Homo sapiens: one gene and its partner. The protein of the gene in region 2 interacts with the protein of the main gene of each other region in a pairwise test. Each region holds a gene or a part of one and is shown on either strand. Other genes may lie near its edges.

Region 1 (3,500 bases), on a different chromosome or scaffold from region 2:
GCCCACTCTGTGTCTCTGTCTCCTACGCTTGGCCACCCACCATCACATGACCTTCTCAGTTCACATCCTAAGAGGGAGTTCTGCAAGATCCATCCACAGCTCGAGTTCAATATCTATTTACTACTGTTTTCCAATGCTTTCTTTTATCTCCCCTTACCCTTCTTTTCTTCTGCAAATATTAACTAAAAACTTATTATGTATAGATCCTGTGCCAGCAGGAATCAGGAGAGACACAGCCCTGACCTCATGGAAGTCATGGTCCAGCAAAATAAGCAATCGCAGTCCAAGCTGAGGGGCTAATGGCCAGGCTATGGAACACATAGAAGATACACTGTATTAGGACCATGGTGGTGGCAGAAGGCTTCCTGGAGGAGGTAACACTAAACTGATTTTGTGTGGGTAAAGTGTGGGAGGATTCAGTCAGGCAAAAGAGAAAAGCTTGCTTCCAATCATACTCCTTACCTTCTCAGTGCCTAGACCAGCAGGGCTCAGTCAGAGGTTTTAAATTTTTTTTAAAAAATTACTTCATTTAAAAAATTTATTTTGTATTTGCAACCTTGGAAACACCTTAGATTTTTATAAAAGATTACCAAATGAAACTGAATCTTGTGATTTATTTCCAGAAAATGTCAGCAACCATTCTCATGAAAGAACAAGGAATTAAGCCAAAGTTTTCACACTATACCAGAAAGAAGATAAAGAGTCCAGAACTTAAACCTCATGAAACAAATTTGGCCAGGCTATTGTGAGTACATACACACACTCCTATTTCATTTATGTTCTCATAAATATCAGGGGCATCGGTGACAAATACTATTCAGGCAGGACTTTGTTTTGTTTTTAAAAATTTCAAACCTACAGAAAAGTTGAAAGACGTGCACATATATCTTTGCCTAGATTCACCAGTTGTTAACATTTTGCATTTTCTTTCTTCTTTCTGCAGATGTTCTCACCTTATTTTTCCTAATTGAGAGTTAAGTTACTTACTGACATCAAGATACTTCCCTTCTAATATTTCAGCATATAGCTCCCAAGAAAAAGGACATTTCCTTACATAACCCCAATACCATTGAAATGGATAGAATAATACTATCTAATACACAATCTACAATCAAATATCTCCAATTTTCTCACAAATGACCTTTGTAGCATTTATGGTTTTCCTCATCCAGGAGCTACTCAAGAATCTCTCATCGGATTTGGTTGTCATAGCTTTGGTACTCTTTTCTAGAAGAGTCCTTCACCTGCTTTAAAACTTTTTCATGTCTTTCATGACACTGACATTTTTGAAGATCCCTGGCCTGTTGTCTTAAATAATGATTCATAATCTAAACTTATCTGATTGCTTCCTCATGCCAACAAGTGATTTTGAATCAAATTCCTCATTTTCTCCTTCCTCTGTCTAGAATCAGCCCGGCCAGTTAACACTCAACAATGACGTTTAGTGGGCCTTGTGGCCTCAGAGGACTTGAAATTTTAAACATCCCAAAAGGGTTCAACCAATATGATTAAGCAACTATAAGCAACTAATACTTACTTAACATTGAAAGAGTATTTTCAATATTTCCAAACTCTAGGGCAGGGGGAGGAGTCAAATGGCATATGTATTACCAAGCTAAAGGAAATTTGAAAGTGATTTACTTAGACTCAGTAGTAACAGCATTTTTTCAGATATTTTTTCAAAGTGCTTTCACACTTGCTATTTAAGAAGGTTGACTTCAAAGGTCAAACAGATAAGCGTTCAAATATTTGGGTCTACCTACCAGCTGTGCTCCTTGGAAAAGTAGCTTCACCTCTGTCAGCCCTGGTTTCCTCAAGGGCTACCTAAAGTGTAAGATGCTTAAACAGGTGCCTTGTTCACAATAATTACCTGTGTTAATCTTCATAGTAACTTCAAAGAAGGTACAGCAGGTACTATCTTCTCCATTTTATAGGTGAGGCTACTGAAGCTCAGAAAGAAAATGTGATTTGTTGAAGGTCATGTAGCAAGGTGACTAAAGAGACAGAATTAGAACCAAAGTTGCTAAGTCCTAGAGTGGTCATTTCCAGTTCTCTTCAGGAAGTAGCATCTACCTCATGGGATGTTGTGAGGATTAAATGAATGATACATATCTGGTGCTATGCATTATGCTGATACAGAGGCTGTGCTCAATCGATATCCGTGACTAGTATTATAATTATTTTTAAAGTGCCACATTGCCATGAGTAGCTAATTTTGTTCAAAGTCTTCCAAAGACCGCTGAAAGTGGGATCACAATTATCTTGACTAAGACCCCATTTCTACCCTATCCTCTGTCCCACCAAGATGAACGGAAGGATTGGAATAACCCAAAATTCACTGAAGGTGTTGAGGTTTCACTTGGAAGAAGAGGCAAAATATTCTGAGGCTGGGGGCCCATTGTTTGCAAAACACAAGAGAGGATCTGTATTCCCTGGGAAAGGGGGCACTAAGCCATGAGTCATTCTCTGGCTCTGTGTGGGCGAATGGGGGTTCCTGCAAAAAACTTTGTGTCACTCACTATTGTCTTGTGTAGATTAAAGCACAAAAAGCCTAGCTAAGTTTTGTTCCCAAAATCACATGGCCCATTCTGCCCAAGCCATTCTAGGAACACATTGTCCATCTCTTTGAAAAATGTGACCAAGAGACAGAATAGTCATTGAATTTGGCCTGTGGTTATTGGTAAAGCACCATTGGGCAGCTGGCCATGCCTTGGGGCACCTTAATGGCCAACTGATCACAAGGTCCAGCTCTCATTACAACCATGCCTGCTGGGAGAAAAAAGGGCTTTCCTTCTGCCCTCAGAACAATGAGGAACCATTAAGAAGCCCAGTCAATGAAAATGTTCCATTCTTGGTCCTGTCCTGGGCTAGGCCCTCAGATTGGCCGGCTCCACTCAACCACCTCTACAGTGCCAGTTCAGACTAGTTGTACAAAGGAAGCTTCCCACAAGTTTGGTTTGTAGCGGATCCCTCAGCTTGGTTACTGTTATAAAGATGGCATGTCTGGGACCAACCTGTGAAGGTTTCAATTAACAACTCGAGATATGACTTCTTTGGATGACGTTGTTCTTAATTTACCCATTCATCTAACCAAAGCCCTGCTATGCCCTCCACTTTCATGGTGCAAGCCGTCTGTCTTTTCATGTACTCAGCTGCGTACTTGGGAGGCAGAGAGGTAGGGTGGAAAGAACGTGAGCTTGGAATGAGGCAGACATAGTTTCCAAACTTGGATCTGACCTTAGGTAACAAAAATAGGCAATACTATATATTCCTAGCTTAGTATGTGCCATACACTGTGTTCAGGAACCTACCTGGAATATCTCACTGAACCCTCACCCCCAACCTATAAGCATCACCATTTCTGCTTCAAAGATGACAAAACTGAAGTTTAGGGATGTTCTATAATTTGCCCAAAGCCTAGATGCAAACTCTGACCTCTCAATAAAGTCGAATTTACCACGTAAAACTGCCTCCAAGTGATAACCTCCCTTGGCCTCTGC
Region 2 (3,500 bases):
GGGTGACAAATATTCATGCATTTATTCAAGTATTTACTGAGTACCTGCTCTTTGCAAGTCATAATTCTAAACACTATGGAAACAGGAGAGAATATGATAGCCATGTTCGGCCTGGGGAGACAGATACCAAATAACTAATTACACATTATTTTTTTTAATTTTTTTGTTTTTTGAAACAGTCTTGCTCTTTTGCCCGGGCTGCAACCTCTACCTCCCTGGTTCAAGCAATTGTCCTGCCTCAGTCTCTTGAGTAACTGGAACTACAGCCACAGGCCACCATGCCCATCTATTTTTTTTTTTTTTTTTTGAGACAGAGTCTCGCTCTGTCGCCCAGGCTGGAGTGCAGTGGAGCGATCTCGGCTCACTGAAAGCTCCACCTCCTGGATGCACGCCACTCTCCTGCCTCAGCCTCCCGAGTAGCTGGGACTACAGGCGCCCGCCACCACGGCCAGCTAATTTTTTTGTATTTTTAGTAGAGACGGGGTTTCACCATGTTAGCCAGGATGGTCTCAATCTCCTGACCTCGTAATCTGCTCTCCTCGGCCACCCAAAGTGCCGGGATTACAGGTGTGAGCCACCGCGCCTGGCCTAATTTTTGTTTTGTTTTGTTTTTGAGATGGAGTCGCACTCTGTCACCCAGGCTGAAGTGCAGTGGTGCGATCTCAGCTCACTGCAACCTCCACCTCCCGGATTTAAGCAATTCTTGTGCCTCAGCCTCCCAAGTATCTGGGATTACAGGTTTCACCATGTTGGCCAGGCTGGTCTTGAACTCCTGGCTTCAAGTGAGCCACCCGCCTCGGCCTCCCAAAGTGCTAGAATTACAGGCATGAGCCACCGTGCCTGGCCCTAATTTTTGTATTTTTAGTAGAGATGGGGTTTTGCCAGGCTGCCAAGGCTGGTCTTGAACTCCTGGCCTTGAGTGATCCACCTGCCTTCCAGAGTGCTGGATTACAGGCATGGGCCACCGCACCCAGCCAACTAATTACACATTTATTTAATTACAGTTGGATAAGTGCTTTAAAAAGGTGGCTAGAATACCTTGACATAGATCGAGGGCAGTTAACAGAGTCTGGGAAAGTTGAGTTTGAGCTGAACTTTGGAAGAACGAACAGGAATTTAATAGGCCAAGAGGGATGGGGTGGATGGGATGAGGAAAAGCGAGCGGTGCATTCCAACTAGAGAGAACAGCATGTGGAAAGCCAAATGGCAGGAGGAGCACAGGCCAGTTTGAGGCAGTGCGAGGAGGCCAGTATGGGCAAAGCAGAGCACAAAGGGAGACTGACATGAGTTCAGGCTGGTGTGAGGTAAGCAAGGGCCAGAAAGCGCAGAACATCTTCAGAGCAGTAGGAAGTGACCAGAAGGTTATAAGCGGGAGAGTGACTTGATTAGGTTTGCATTTTTTATTTTTGTGTTTGTTTTTGTTTTTGTTTTTTTGAGTCAGTGTCTTGCTCTGTCATCCAGGCTGGAGTGCATTGGCGTGATCTCGGCTCACTGAAATGTCCACCTCCCAGGTTCAAGGGATTTTTGTGCCCCAGCCTCCCAAGTAGCTGGGATTACAGGCATGTGCACCAAGCCTGGCTAAGTTTTTGTATTTTTGGTAGAGACAGAGTTTCACCATGTTGCCCAGGCTGGTCTTGAACTCCTCAGCTCAGCTGATGCGCCCACCTGGGCCTCCCAAAGTGCTGGGATTACAGGCATGAGCCACCGTGCCTGGCCAGGTTTGCATTTTTTAAAAAGGACATTCTGGCTACTATATGGAAGTAGATTGGAAGTGTTATGTGTATAATAGAGGATACCAGGAGACTATTTGTAATTTGAGGACAAAGAGCTTGGAGGCAGAGATGGAAAATAAAAGAAAGGGGCCCGTCTTAGTGGCTCATGCCAGTAATCCCAGCACTTTGGGAGATCAAGGCGGGCGGATCACCTGAGGCCAGGAGTTCAAGACCAGTCTGGCCAAAATGGTGAAACCCTGTGTCTACTAAAAATACAAAAATTAGTCGGGTGTGGTGGCGCGCGCCTGTGGTCCCAGCTACTCCAGAGGCTGAGGCAGGAGAATCACTTGAACCCAGGAGGTGGAGGCTGCAGTGAGCCAAGATCGTGCCACTGCACTCCAGCCTGGGCAACAGAGCCAGACTCCGTCTCAAAAAACAAAAAAGGAAAAGAAAGGGAAGAGCTTTTTTTTTTTTTTTTGGAGACAGAGTCTCGCTCTGTCACCAGGCTGGAGTGCAGTAGTGCAGTCTTGGCTCACTGCAACCTCTGCCTCCCAGGTTCAAGTGATTCTCCTGCCTCAGCCTCCTGAATAGCTGGGATTACAGGTACGTGCCACCACACCTGGCTAATTTTTATATTTTTAGTAGAAACAGGCTTTCACCATGTTGGCCAGGCTGGTCTCGAACTCCTGACCTCGTGATCCACCCGCCTCAACCTCCCAAAGTGCTGGGATTACAGGCTTGAGCCACCACACCTGACGGGAAGAGCTTATTTATAAAGGAAGGTCACTGAAGGCGAAAAGGGTGGGATAGCCATGCAGAAATGGAAAGGTTTTGTAGAGAAAGAGTTAAGCATGGCCTGTCATGAGAGAACTGATCCATCCTGTCACAGATAAATCCAGAGGTTCAGAGGAAGGAAAACTGAGCTGCACTTTATTTTTTGTTTGTTTGTTTGTTTGTTTGAGATGGAGTCTCACTGTGTCGCCCAGGCTGGAGTGCAGTGGTGCGATCTCGGCTCACTGCAAACTCCGCCTCCCAGGTTCATGCCATTCTCCTGCCTCAGCCTCCTGAGTAGCTGGGAGTACAGGCGCCCGCCATCGCACCTGGCTAATTTTTTGTATTTTTAGTAGAGACGGGGTTTCACCATGTTAGCCAGGATGGTCTCAATCTCCTGACCTCGTGATCTGCTCTCCTCGGCCTCCCAAAGTGCTGGGATTACAGGTGTGAGCCACCATGCCTGGCCATTTGTTTGTTTTTGAGACAGGGACTTGCTCTATTGCCCAGGCTGGAGTGCAGTGGCTCAATCACGGCTCACTGCAACCTCTGCCTCCTGGATTCAAGTGATTCTCATGCCTCAGCCTCCCAAGTAGCTGGGATTAGAGATGCCCACCGTCACACTAGGCTAATTTTCATATTTTTAATAGAGATGGAGGTCTCGCCATGTTGGCCAGGCTGGTCTTGAACTCCTGGCCTTGAGTGATCCACCCCCTTGGCCTCCCAAAGTGCTGGGATTGCAGGCGTGAGCCACCATGTCCGGCCTGAACTGCACTTTAAAAGGAGCTGTAAGGCCTATGCATAGTCAGTCCTGTGATTGTTTCTCTCTCTTCCCTAGGTATTGAAAACCTTCCCTTTGAATTACAGAGAAACTTTCAGCTCATGAGGGACCTAGACCAAAGAACAGAGGGTATGTATAGAGTAAAAAGTTTTTGTATCTAATGAGTGTGTGTAATCATTTATTTTTCTACTTGATGTTACCGTATCATCTGGTATGATCTGGAGAACTGTGGCTTC

Evidence for each region.
Region 1: the proteins of ING4 (region 2) and NAV2 interact in binary tests that used the Homo sapiens proteins (3 or more experiments, as listed by UniProt).

The regions. Positions count from the first base shown.
Region 1 is NC_000011.10:19,719,337-19,722,836, reverse strand, and holds part of NAV2 (neuron navigator 2), read right to left. Parts: intron 1-3,500. UniProt on the Homo sapiens protein: Possesses 3' to 5' helicase activity and exonuclease activity. Involved in neuronal development, specifically in the development of different sensory organs.
Region 2 is NC_000012.12:6,656,620-6,660,119, reverse strand, and holds part of ING4 (inhibitor of growth protein 4), read left to right. Parts: intron 1-3,320; exon of another isoform or gene 3,321-3,321; coding exon 3,322-3,393; intron 3,394-3,500.